Homo sapiens: one gene and its partner. The protein of the gene in region 1 interacts with the protein of each later gene in a pairwise test. Each region holds a gene or a part of one and is shown in the gene's direction. Other genes may lie near its edges. The genes, in order: METAP2 and PTCHD1.

What was found.
Region 2: the proteins of METAP2 (region 1) and PTCHD1 interact in a two-hybrid assay, tested with the Homo sapiens proteins (one study listed by BioGRID and IntAct).

The regions. Positions count from the first base shown.
Region 1 is NC_000012.12:95,512,102-95,516,588, forward strand, and holds the end of METAP2 (methionine aminopeptidase 2), read left to right. Parts: intron 1-699; coding exon 700-815; intron 816-1,550; coding exon 1,551-1,803; 3' UTR 1,804-3,738; downstream 3,739-4,487. UniProt on the Homo sapiens protein: Cotranslationally removes the N-terminal methionine from nascent proteins. The N-terminal methionine is often cleaved when the second residue in the primary sequence is small and uncharged (Met-Ala-, Cys, Gly, Pro, Ser, Thr, or Val).
Region 2 is NC_000023.11:23,386,834-23,394,132, forward strand, and holds part of PTCHD1 (patched domain-containing protein 1), read left to right. Parts: intron 1-5,697; coding exon 5,698-7,299. UniProt on the Homo sapiens protein: Required for the development and function of the thalamic reticular nucleus (TRN), a part of the thalamus that is critical for thalamocortical transmission, generation of sleep rhythms, sensorimotor processing and attention. Can bind cholesterol in vitro.

The DNA.
Region 1 (4,487 bases):
CTTATCATCCATATTCACCCTGCCAGGAATTGGGCCATTTGAATTTGCAAATTGTGTATAGTCAGCACTAAATCAGTTGTGGAAATTGGGGCTGTGAAAGGGTTGTTTATTCAACATTTAATGAATATTTATTGAGCATTCTCAGGTGCCAGTCTCTTTATAGTAGGCTCTAGGGGTAGAGCTGTGAACATAATTCATAGGGGGAAGCAGAAAGACCAAAAAGTGCTAAGGAGATAAAGCAGGGCAAGGCTAGATAAGGACCGCCAGGGGCTATTTCATGTTGCTGCTTAATCAGGTAGAGACTTCAAGAGATGGTAATTGTAGGCCAGGCTCGGTAGCTCAGGCCTGTTAATCCCAGCACTTTGAGACACCAAGGCAGGCAGATCACCTGAGTGAGGTCAGGAGTTTGAGACCATCCTGGCCAACATGGTGGAACCTTGTATCTACTAAAAATACAAAAATTAGCCAGGCATGGTGGCACGTGCCTGTAGTCCCACCTACTCGGGAGGCTGAGGCAGGAGAATCGCTTGAACCTGGAAAGTGGAGGTTGCAGTGAGCCAAGATCTCACCACTGCACTCCAGCCTGGCAGCAGAGAGAGACTCTGTCTCAAAAAGAGAGAGAGAGAAAGAGAGATGGTAATTGTGATTCGTTCTGAATTTTTCTTCTTTCTCTCCCCTTGACCCTTATTTATTTTTCAGGAAGGAGAAGTATATGCAATTGAAACCTTTGGTAGTACAGGAAAAGGTGTTGTTCATGATGATATGGAATGTTCACATTACATGAAAAATTTTGATGTTGGACATGTGCCAATAAGGTGAGAGACGAGACGATTGATTTTATGTGGCTAATTAGCATCTCTTCTGAGTTAACAGCATTTCTAAAAAATGTGGCATACATACAAAATAGTATATTCATGAATGTAGAGTTCTGTAGCCCAACAATAAGAAAAAAAAATAGCCTGTTAAACATTTTAACTGAGATAAAAATTACACACACACACACACACACACACACACACACACACACACACAAGTGCTCTCTTCAAGTCCGGTTTCTGATAATCATAAATGTCAGAGATTATTTTGCTAGCATTCCTAGGTTTTTGCTTTAATATTTTTCCATTGGTAAACTTCCATTTACAGCGTCTTTCAATTTACATTGAAATTTTTTAACATTTGAAGATGATTGAAATCTGCATTTACATCTTTTATATGCAGGTCTTTGAGCTTGCTGCACACAAAAGGAAATTCACATCATAATACCCTGTAGTAGGTCTCTAGTGGGGAATATAACACACACACACGCACACGCGCGCGCACGTAGACACGTAAACATGATAAGATGGCCTCCAGCTGGTGTCCTATTCAGCTGCCATCTATAATTAGGTATGGGCTATTATACATTCTGGCTTTTGATTGTTGAAAGAGCAACAATAAAAGTTTTTGGACTTCAACTACTAGGACACAGCTAAGGTCTGGGCTTTTCTTAATGAGGGAAATCAGTTCGTAACTCTTTTGCCAACAGTTAATTTTGGATTTTCTCCTCTTAGGCTTCCAAGAACAAAACACTTGTTAAATGTCATCAATGAAAACTTTGGAACCCTTGCCTTCTGCCGCAGATGGCTGGATCGCTTGGGAGAAAGTAAATACTTGATGGCTCTGAAGAATCTGTGTGACTTGGGCATTGTAGATCCATATCCACCATTATGTGACATTAAAGGATCATATACAGCGCAATTTGAACATACCATCCTGTTGCGTCCAACATGTAAAGAAGTTGTCAGCAGAGGAGATGACTATTAAACTTAGTCCAAAGCCACCTCAACACCTTTATTTTCTGAGCTTTGTTGGAAAACATGATACCAGAATTAATTTGCCACATGTTGTCTGTTTTAACAGTGGACCCATGTAATACTTTTATCCATGTTTAAAAAAGAAGGAATTTGGACAAAGGCAAACCGTCTAATGTAATTAACCAACGAAAAAGCTTTCCGGACTTTTAAATGCTAACTGTTTTTCCCCTTCCTGTCTAGGAAAATGCTATAAAGCTCAAATTAGTTAGGAATGACTTATACGTTTTGTTTTGAATACCTAAGAGATACTTTTTGGATATTTATATTGCCATATTCTTACTTGAATGCTTTGAATGACTACATCCAGTTCTGCACCTATACCCTCTGGTGTTGCTTTTTAACCTTCCTGGAATCCATTTTCTAAAAAATAAAGACATTTTCAGATCTGAGAGCTACATCTCAATGTCTGTGGTTATAATTCTGGACAGGATAAATAGCTAAACTTAATGTAGGCAAATGCAGAGACATTTATCTGAAATGTAGACCTCTACACTGAGACTTTTCTGGCATAGTGGCTAAAACAAGATCTACACATGCATAAAAAGGGACAATCACCTTTTCTTCATAAATATACAGCTTTAGGAATATTTCACCATTCTTTGTAGGACATAGTAGTCCTTGTCTTTTTTTCTCCTGACATTGGAAAGATGTGCTAATTGAAACTTGACTTAGTAGGAACATTGTGCCAACTCAAAACCTTGATTTAGTAAAAATCTCAATGTTTAGATCCTTTGTCCAGTGGTGGTGTTTATCAGGGAATGTATTCAGCTTGCTCAGAAAACCAAAAGGGTATTAAAGCCACAAAAGCAAAGAAGAAAAAAAAAAACTTCCCATGTTTGGATCTTGTTCTAGTTAGAAAAATTAAGTTGAAATTCTTGGACTTTTTCATTCATGAGGCAAATGCTGTAATACCTTCCCCTTTGACAGGTTTGGATTCTTAACATTACTAGTGGTATTTCAGGAAGTGACGTTACAGTTACTTTCCTTATAGCGGCTAAGTGTATTAAGTTGAATGTAACGATGGTAATATTAATTTGTTTGAACTGAGGCCCACTACTGATTCTTTGACAAATTGAATTCTTATATTTAAATAATTTTATGGGAATGTTCCATCATAATTTCTAAATCATTTATATATCAAGGTAGCCTTAATTTGTATATGTTTCAGTACAATGAGATTTTATTGCCTCTGGGATGCTGTTTAGTTTGTATTTTGTTGAACGTTTTTATCCTAGGAAGAGAAACCTATGACTTGTGTACCTAGATCATCTGTTACATTAAAAAGCTGCTCTTTCAGCATTAGAGCTATAAATGAATGTTACCTTGTCGGGAAACAATCTAGGTTTTAGCTGTATGAGCTATGTTTATTATGGTGCTAATGTTCAGTAGCCACATTTGACTAATGTCTCCATTCTCTGTGATGCTGTGGCTAGCAGCAGAGCTCGCCAGTTCATGCCTGGACATACTGTCAGGGCTGGGCCCTCCAGCTAGCTCCTTTGGGGTTGAGTCCGTATCTTTTTGATGTGGAAGTATAAAGCAAGTATCTTGATTTCTAAACCCAGCAATTTTAGAATTGACCTTTATGAGTGAAGACTTTTGGAGCTTTTAAAGACCTTGGCAGTCATGATCTCAAACCAATTAGGAGCTCCAAGCTCCCTTCCCAGGTAACTGTTGGGAGCAATGGCATCACTGTATGCCCTTGTAATGGCTGGAAGGGACATGATCTTGTAAGTAGGAAAGCTGTAACTAAAAATTGTATTGTTTGCTTATTAGCCATGTATCTCTTAAAATTTTGTTATGTTTACAACGATGTACCTTATTGGCAACAAGTTATTAGTTTGATGTTTAACAATAGTGCCTTTAGTAAATTATTTTACAACTAAAACATGTTGTTTTTTGTTAGATCAACTTAGCAGAATGTAGACGTCCATGTTGAGATTTAAGATAAATAGTAAGAAATCTAAGTTTCTGTTTATTGTTTAGGTTTTAATTTTATTGTTGGTATTTTGAGACATTTTTCACACTAAAATTTAGTGGAAAGTACTACAGATTTCCCAGACCCCCCCCCAATAATATCCCCCTTTTCCAAGCCTCCCCCCATAGGTGTTTGTTAGTTTTAAGGGATTAAAAAGTAAAGGGCTAAGTCACTTTGTTTTTTTTTTTTTTTTTTTTTTTTTTTTTTTTAGCGGGAGTCTCGCTCTGTCACCCAGGCTGGAGTGCAGTGGCGCGATCTCAGCTCACTGCAGCCGGGTTCAAGCTATTCTCCTGCCTCAGCCTCCTGAGTAGCTGGACTATAGATGCATGCTACCACGCCTGGCTAATTTTTTTTTTTTTTGTATTTTTAGTAGAGATGGGGTTTCACTGTGTTAGCCAGGATGGTCTTGATCTCCTGACCTTGTGATCTGCCCGCCTCGGCCTTCCAAAGTGCTGGGATTACAGGCATGAGCCATGGCGTCCGGCCTCTTGTATGTTTTTATATTGAAATAAGTACAAGCAACGATACCATTACAAATAGCTCAGGAGTTTTTACAGTTCCATTAAAATGACGTGCTAAAATGTATAACGTTAAAAATAGTCCTTGAAATTAGAAAAGAGTAGACTCTGGTTATCTTGACCATGTAAATTTTTAATGAG
Region 2 (7,299 bases), on another chromosome or scaffold:
AATGTTTTCACACTGAAACTGAAAGATCATCCATCAATCAGCAAGCCATCCCATTTCCTCCTTCTTAGCCATTCCTTACTTTGAGGAACTCAGGATGAGGAAATCCTGCTAGTGTGGAGAGGTTTAAAATGTGAGTAGCACCCAGCGGCATCTCTCAGCTGCTGTGTTGTGGCTATGTATACTGGGACAGGCGCGAAAATCTGGGACTGAAGAAAAATCTGACTTACAAAATCCAGAAGTATTATACAAAGTAGATCAATTTGCCTACGATTATTCATTGAAAACCAAACAACAACAAAAAAATCACCCAGACTGTCTCCAATAGCAAAACCACTAAATACATTTAAAATATTATTCACTTTATGAGCAACTTTCCAGAAGTATATCTACTGGGTAAAGAAAGGTTAACTCTCAACTATTTGTTAGTAGATTCTGTCTTACCGGATTATAAACAACCCTGAAGGCTTTGGTCAGGCCCCAGAAAGTTCTGGGTGACAGAATTAATCTCTGAGGGTGCTTGATAGTCACCCTCAGTGATGGGAGGATTAGCCAGTTGAATTTTTTTTTCCGCCATTAGTGTTATTTATCATGTGTGCTTCTTTTTCCCTTCATTTGCTCCAAAGTCTGAGAGTTAACAACACATTCAGATATAAAAATTCTTTTGAGAATAAGAAAAATTATTAGCCTAAATTCTTTAGTATTTTATTTTATTAGATGACAACCCCAAAGTGTACTGCAAATAAAATTAATAAAAGCAGTTTTCTTTTTAAAATCACACTCCCGGCCCAAATTTTGCCTCAACATTAGTGAAGAGCCCTGCTGGCCTGACAAAAACCTCGAGCTGCCTCAGAGTATTCACTCACGAATAATTAGAACTTGGCGCTCCCTTCAATCTCTCTCTCTCTCTTTCTCTTTATGTGTGTGTGTATGTGTTTTTACATACTGATATGCATTTGTTCTTATGCATGTAACAATACAGACATGCAGGGTAACAAAAATAGAAACAAACATCTTGAATATGCTTTTAAAGGACAAGAGAATGCTTTAGAAGCATTTTTATCTTCAAAATCTGATAGAATCAGTATGTGTTTAACAGTTCCCGTTGGCAACTCCTCAGTCCTGCACTGTGACTGTAAAAGAAGGAATCCCCTGGGATGTTGTATCATCCAGGGTAATCCTTGGAATGTGAGGATGTCAGGATGTGGAGGTTCCTGATATCCTCACTGTGATATATAGTCTTTTTACCCCAAGGTCTCAGGCTGCGACCTGGCCCTCAAATGATGAGTCATGACTCCCAATAACACCACAGGGTCCCTACTGACCAAAATCAAAATCTGTATTTAGGTAGCTCTGCCCTGGCCCCACCCCATGAGTTCTGTCACCAGGGAGTCCTTGTGAACAGACTTGGGACTTTGGAGATGGGAAATTGTTATTTGCCAAAGTCATGCTTTGTGCCAATGACATAGGCCCACTGGTCAGATTTAACAGAGAAGCTTATAGAACTCCTACTTTGTAGAGAAGTTTTTAAAACTAGAGTGCAAAGCAAACAGCAGTACTTTTGCTTTTAAAACACCTTTTTAAAAAGTAGGAAACAACAGTCAGACCTCTGAAAAGTATCTTCAGTCCACATGCAATATCTGTTTGCCTACGTCTGTAAGATTTGGCGTCAGAGTTCCGCTTGCTGAACTACAGCCCCAAAATTAGGAGAGTGGGTTGTGCGTGGTGGCTCATGCCTGTATAGAATCCCAGCACTTTGGGAGGCCGAGGCAGGCAGATCACCTGAGGTCAAGAGTTCAAGACCAGCCTGGCCAATACGGTGAAACCCCATCTCTACTAAAACTACAAAAATTACCTGGGCGTGGTGGCATGTGCCTGTAATCCCAGCTACCCAGGAGGCTGAGGCAGGGGAATCGCTGGAACCCGGGAGGCCGAGGCTGCAGCGAGCAGAGATTGTGCCACTGCACTCCAGCCTGGGAGACAGAGTGAGACTCCGTCTCGAAAAAAAAAAAAAGCAATGAATGATGATGATGCTAAAGGAGGTAGCCATCCACTGAAAGAGGAAAGTGGAGAGGAACAGAACCTACCAAAATCTATCTTCTCTGCCTCTCCTTGACTCCAGGTGGCCCAGTTTCTGGAGTGCTAGTAAAAGATAAGGTCAGACCTGACTGAAGGAAAAACTGAAGAAATTCGTCTCTGTGAAATTCTCCTACCTGCCATTTCCTCTTTATTCCATTCCCATGTCCATTCTCTGTCCCATTCCCCAGACCTAAGGGAAGCTGCTTCAGTAGACCACTGTCCCAGAGGAGTTTACATTTAAAAGGATACCCTTGAAAGTTCCAAGGGGAACTCGGATATAATTCCGGCATTCTGGAGGGCAGGATGGTCCTCGTGTCCTAGGGCTTTTGGAATGTGTCTCCCCTTGAATCCAGGCCAGAACACAAGAGTCCTCACCGATGGCCTTTCCTATAGGATAACAGGCCGACCTCTTCAGCAAAAATACCCAGCTATGAGCCAGGACAGCTGCCAGCCAGGCACTCCAGGCTGTTAATCCTTAAGAGGTGACCACAGCTATGTTAGCACTTGTCCCTCCCTTGACTGACAAACCTTCAGGAAGGAGGCCCAGTTATGGTATCAGCAATTGTCCCAGAAATCCAAAGGGCTCTTGTAAGATGCTGTAGAACTCCAGTTTGGGGATTCGGGTGTAGCAATCTGCTCGAGAGGTGTGGCTTGAGAAAGGAATCTGACCTATCAGGAATGGTGGTCGGGGCCTTTGGAGGCAAAGTCAGGCACAACTAGCAACAAATGCTGAGTGATCGGTTAGAACAAATTCTTTCTCAGGGCCTCTTCTGATTTCTGTGAGTGGCTGCATGTACACACCTGTAGCAAGAAGGAAGAACTAAGGAAAGGCATCGTTTCCAAAAGCCCCTCAGAAGAAAATTAGAATTCTCTTTGGAGCTGCCCCCAAACCAAGAACATATGCAAAAAGAGCCAGGACTCAAAATAAAAGATCAAACTATAGAAGGACAAGGCATTTAAAATGCAGCAACAGAACTCAAGAGAGAAGCTAACAGCCTACTTCCACCTTTCCTTGATTTTGATTACTTTCATTCTTGACCCTGGAGCCTCAGTCTTGTCACCTAATATCTCTGTTAATTCAAATTCCTTTTCTCAATTAGCTTCTAAGATTATTCAACAGCAAGGTATGAAATTGATTCTTATTGTATTTTCCAAAAATCAGGGTCAGATAATGTCATTATAAAACATCACACTGATTTTTAAAAGAACTGCAAAACAGATTTAAGTTCTATTATATGACTAATTCTAATTCCGCTATATGCTTTATTTTCTTGCCATATTTAATAACTCAGTACTAAAACCCTGTTTAAATTTTTTGTTTCTGGCAAGTAAATATCATTAAAAAATTATTTGCCATTTATAGTGATCCCCTGAAGTGTGCTTTGCCCACCAAAGCTTACTTGCTCTACATGGCCCCAGGAAAAAAAAAAAAAAAACAAAAAAAACAATATTATTTCTTCAGGGACAGTGCCTCAGAAGTATTCTCTTTTTACCCTCATTGTCAAGAGAATGGTTACTTAATTAAAGGTCAGTGGGTCCATCTTGAAAATATACTAGAAACAGATTTAATCATGTTCCCTCTCCAGACTAGATGTTAATACCTAAGCATAATTAACAACAGGATGCCAGTCAATGAGTGTACTTTTTACTTCATATCTGGGGAGTTTAGGTGCCTTCAATTTAATAGGGGCCTCGGTGCTAGTTAACAAATTGACAGTCTTGACCTGACTTCTAAAAGTGGCTGTAAAACGATGCCTAGTCAATTAAGATAAATGCCAAATTCCTCTGAGGAAACAGGCCTAAATCATTACTTTGAAATGGGCATTTCAGGTATGAGGCCAGGACTTCACAATAAGGATATAAATACTAGCTTGGGCATGAGGGAAGATGTACACCTAGCTATTGTACACACAAGATAACAGTGACTCACTTTATTCAGCATTATGCTTGGCTGGAGATTTTAAATTCCTTTTTAAATACAAGACTATTGTACCACAGGGTAAAGATTTTATTATCCTCAATAATGGGATTGAATATGCCAAGGCGATGGAAGCAGGAAATTAGATCTGCTGATCCCCATTGCCAAGACAGGAGTTATCGAAATCCACAACGGGTCACTTTGGTGAGCCTTCCAATGTTGCAGTGGCCTGGAAACACAGGGACTCGAAGTAGGGAAATGTCTGGCTCCAACTACGAGAGGTGGTAGAAGTCATGCTAGATCAGGTTCCAGGCAGCAGAATGGAGTTTAGAACATGAGCATTTACTGTACCTCTGCTATTTCAGTATTGCTGAAATACTAAACCAGGAGGCGAAGGCACTAAGCAGTTACGCAGCGGGGTTACTGATCTGGCTCTTTCCCACAGATGCCACTATCAAATAGCGCGGAGAAGCTAGCAGAGTCGCTGCTGACGTATTATATCACTGCTTGATAAGTCATGTATGAATAACCAAATTGGTCAAACAGATCCCTGAAGACAAATTGCAAGTCATAAACCTTCAACCTGAATCCTAATTTTTATCAATAACCAGGAGAGTTCATATTTATCTTATTTTTTCTGTATTTTCTTCACTGAAACTTCTTCACTCCTACTTATTTTGCTTCCCTCTTTCTAAGATTTATTGCTTCCTGCCCTGATATTTGGGGAGGGAAAACAGAGGGGGCTGTGATTTAGTTTCCTGTCAAGACTCAAATGAAATACACTGCCTCTTTATCACTAAAACCCTCTAGTTGGCAAATTTTAAATGAGGTGACAGGACATTAACTCAGAACCCTCTGCCCACTATCTTCCTCTGCACTGACCCCTAGCCAGACTTGTGGGGACGGAAAGCAAAATGATGAGTGTCCAGACATCTTCTCTTCTCTGGAGCGTTCCACCAACCAAACTGCACCAATAACTCTAAGCTATTAATGGGAAAAATCCCCAAGAGACATATGCACAAGTCTAATCAGCTTTTATTCTTTTTAGAGTCAGGGTCTTGCCCTGTTGCCCAGGCTGGAGTGCAGTGGCACAATCATGGCTCACTGCAGCCTCCAACTCCGAGGCTCAAGAGATCCACCTGCCTTAGCCTCCCAAGTAGCTGGGACTACAGATATGAGCCACTATTCCTGGCTAAGTTGTTTCATTTTCTTTCTTTTTTTTTCTTTCTTTTTTCTTTCTTTCTTTCTTTTTTTTTTTTTTTTTGAGAGATGAGGTCTCGCTACATTGCCCAGGCTGGTATCAAACTCCTGGTCTTAAGTCATCTTCCTTCCTCAGTCTCCCAAGTTGCTAGGATTACAGGCATGAGCCACCATGACTGGCTCTACTCAGCTTTCTATAGGCAAAAGTTCATCTAAGTGCTGTTTGTTTGGTGGAACACTCCAAAGAAGAGAACTTTCTTAAGCCAGAGGGAATATGAAGATCTTTGCTTCTCTAGCTGCCCTTTCGTTATCCATTAACATTTACGATTCATAAAAACATGGGTCTATCTCCGCATAGGAGAAATCATTGGCATTTACATACCCGTCACCACTAGGGTTGATTACGTTTCCTTTGACCCAGTAGTCCCTCATAATCAAGTTGATTTCCCTCTTAAGAGATTAGTTCTTTAAACTTCTGCTCTGGTCTTTTTCTGCCCTCTTAGGTCATGGATTATATGGGACTTTTGAAATGTTATCCTCCTGGAGGAAAACTAGAGAAGACCAACATGTTAAAGAGAGAACTGCAGCAGTCTATGCAGACTCCATGCTCTCCTTTTCTCTCACCACTGCCATGTACCTGGTCACCTTTGGCATAGGGGCCAGCCCTTTCACGAACATTGAGGCAGCCAGGATTTTCTGCTGCAATTCCTGTATTGCAATCTTCTTCAACTACCTCTATGTACTCTCGTTTTATGGTTCCAGCCTAGTGTTCACTGGCTACATAGAAAACAATTACCAGCATAGTATCTTCTGTAGAAAAGTCCCAAAGCCTGAGGCATTGCAGGAGAAGCCGGCATGGTACAGGTTTCTCCTGACGGCCAGATTCAGTGAGGACACAGCTGAAGGCGAGGAAGCGAACACTTACGAGAGTCACCTATTGGTATGTTTCCTCAAACGCTATTACTGTGACTGGATAACCAACACCTATGTCAAGCCTTTTGTAGTTCTCTTTTACCTTATTTATATTTCCTTTGCCTTAATGGGCTATCTGCAGGTCAGTGAAGGGTCAGACCTTAGTAACATTGTAGCAACCGCGACACAAACCATTGAGTACACTACTGCCCAGCAAAAGTACTTCAGCAACTACAGTCCTGTGATTGGGTTTTACATATATGAGTCTATAGAATACTGGAACACTAGTGTCCAAGAAGATGTTCTAGAATACACCAAGGGGTTTGTGCGGATATCCTGGTTTGAGAGCTATTTAAATTACCTTCGGAAACTCAATGTATCCACTGGCTTGCCTAAGAAAAATTTCACAGACATGTTGAGGAATTCCTTTCTGAAAGCCCCTCAATTTTCACATTTTCAAGAGGACATCATCTTCTCTAAAAAATACAATGATGAGGTCGATGTAGTGGCCTCCAGAATGTTTTTGGTGGCCAAGACCATGGAAACAAACAGAGAAGAACTCTATGATCTCTTGGAAACCCTGAGGAGACTTTCTGTCACCTCCAAGGTGAAGTTCATCGTCTTCAATCCGTCCTTTGTATACATGGATCGATATGCCTCCTCTCTGGGAGCCCCCCTGCACAACTCCTGCATCAGTGCTTTGTTCCTGCTCTTCTTCTCGGCATTCCTGGTGGCAGATTCACTGATTAACGTCTGGATCACTCTCACAGTTGTGTCCGTGGAGTTTGGAGTGATAGGTTTCATGACATTATGGAAAGTAGAACTGGACTGCATTTCTGTGCTATGCTTAATTTATGGAATTAATTACACAATTGACAATTGTGCTCCAATGTTATCCACATTTGTTCTGGGCAAGGATTTCACAAGAACTAAATGGGTAAAAAATGCCCTGGAAGTGCATGGGGTAGCTATTTTACAGAGTTACCTCTGCTATATTGTTGGTCTGATTCCTCTTGCAGCTGTGCCTTCAAATCTGACCTGTACACTGTTCAGGTGCTTGTTTTTAATAGCATTTGTCACCTTCTTTCACTGCTTTGCCATTTTACCTGTGATACTGACTTTCCTGCCACCCTCTAAGAAAAAAAGGAAAGAGAAGAAAAATCCTGAGAACCGGGAGGAAATTGAGTGTGTAG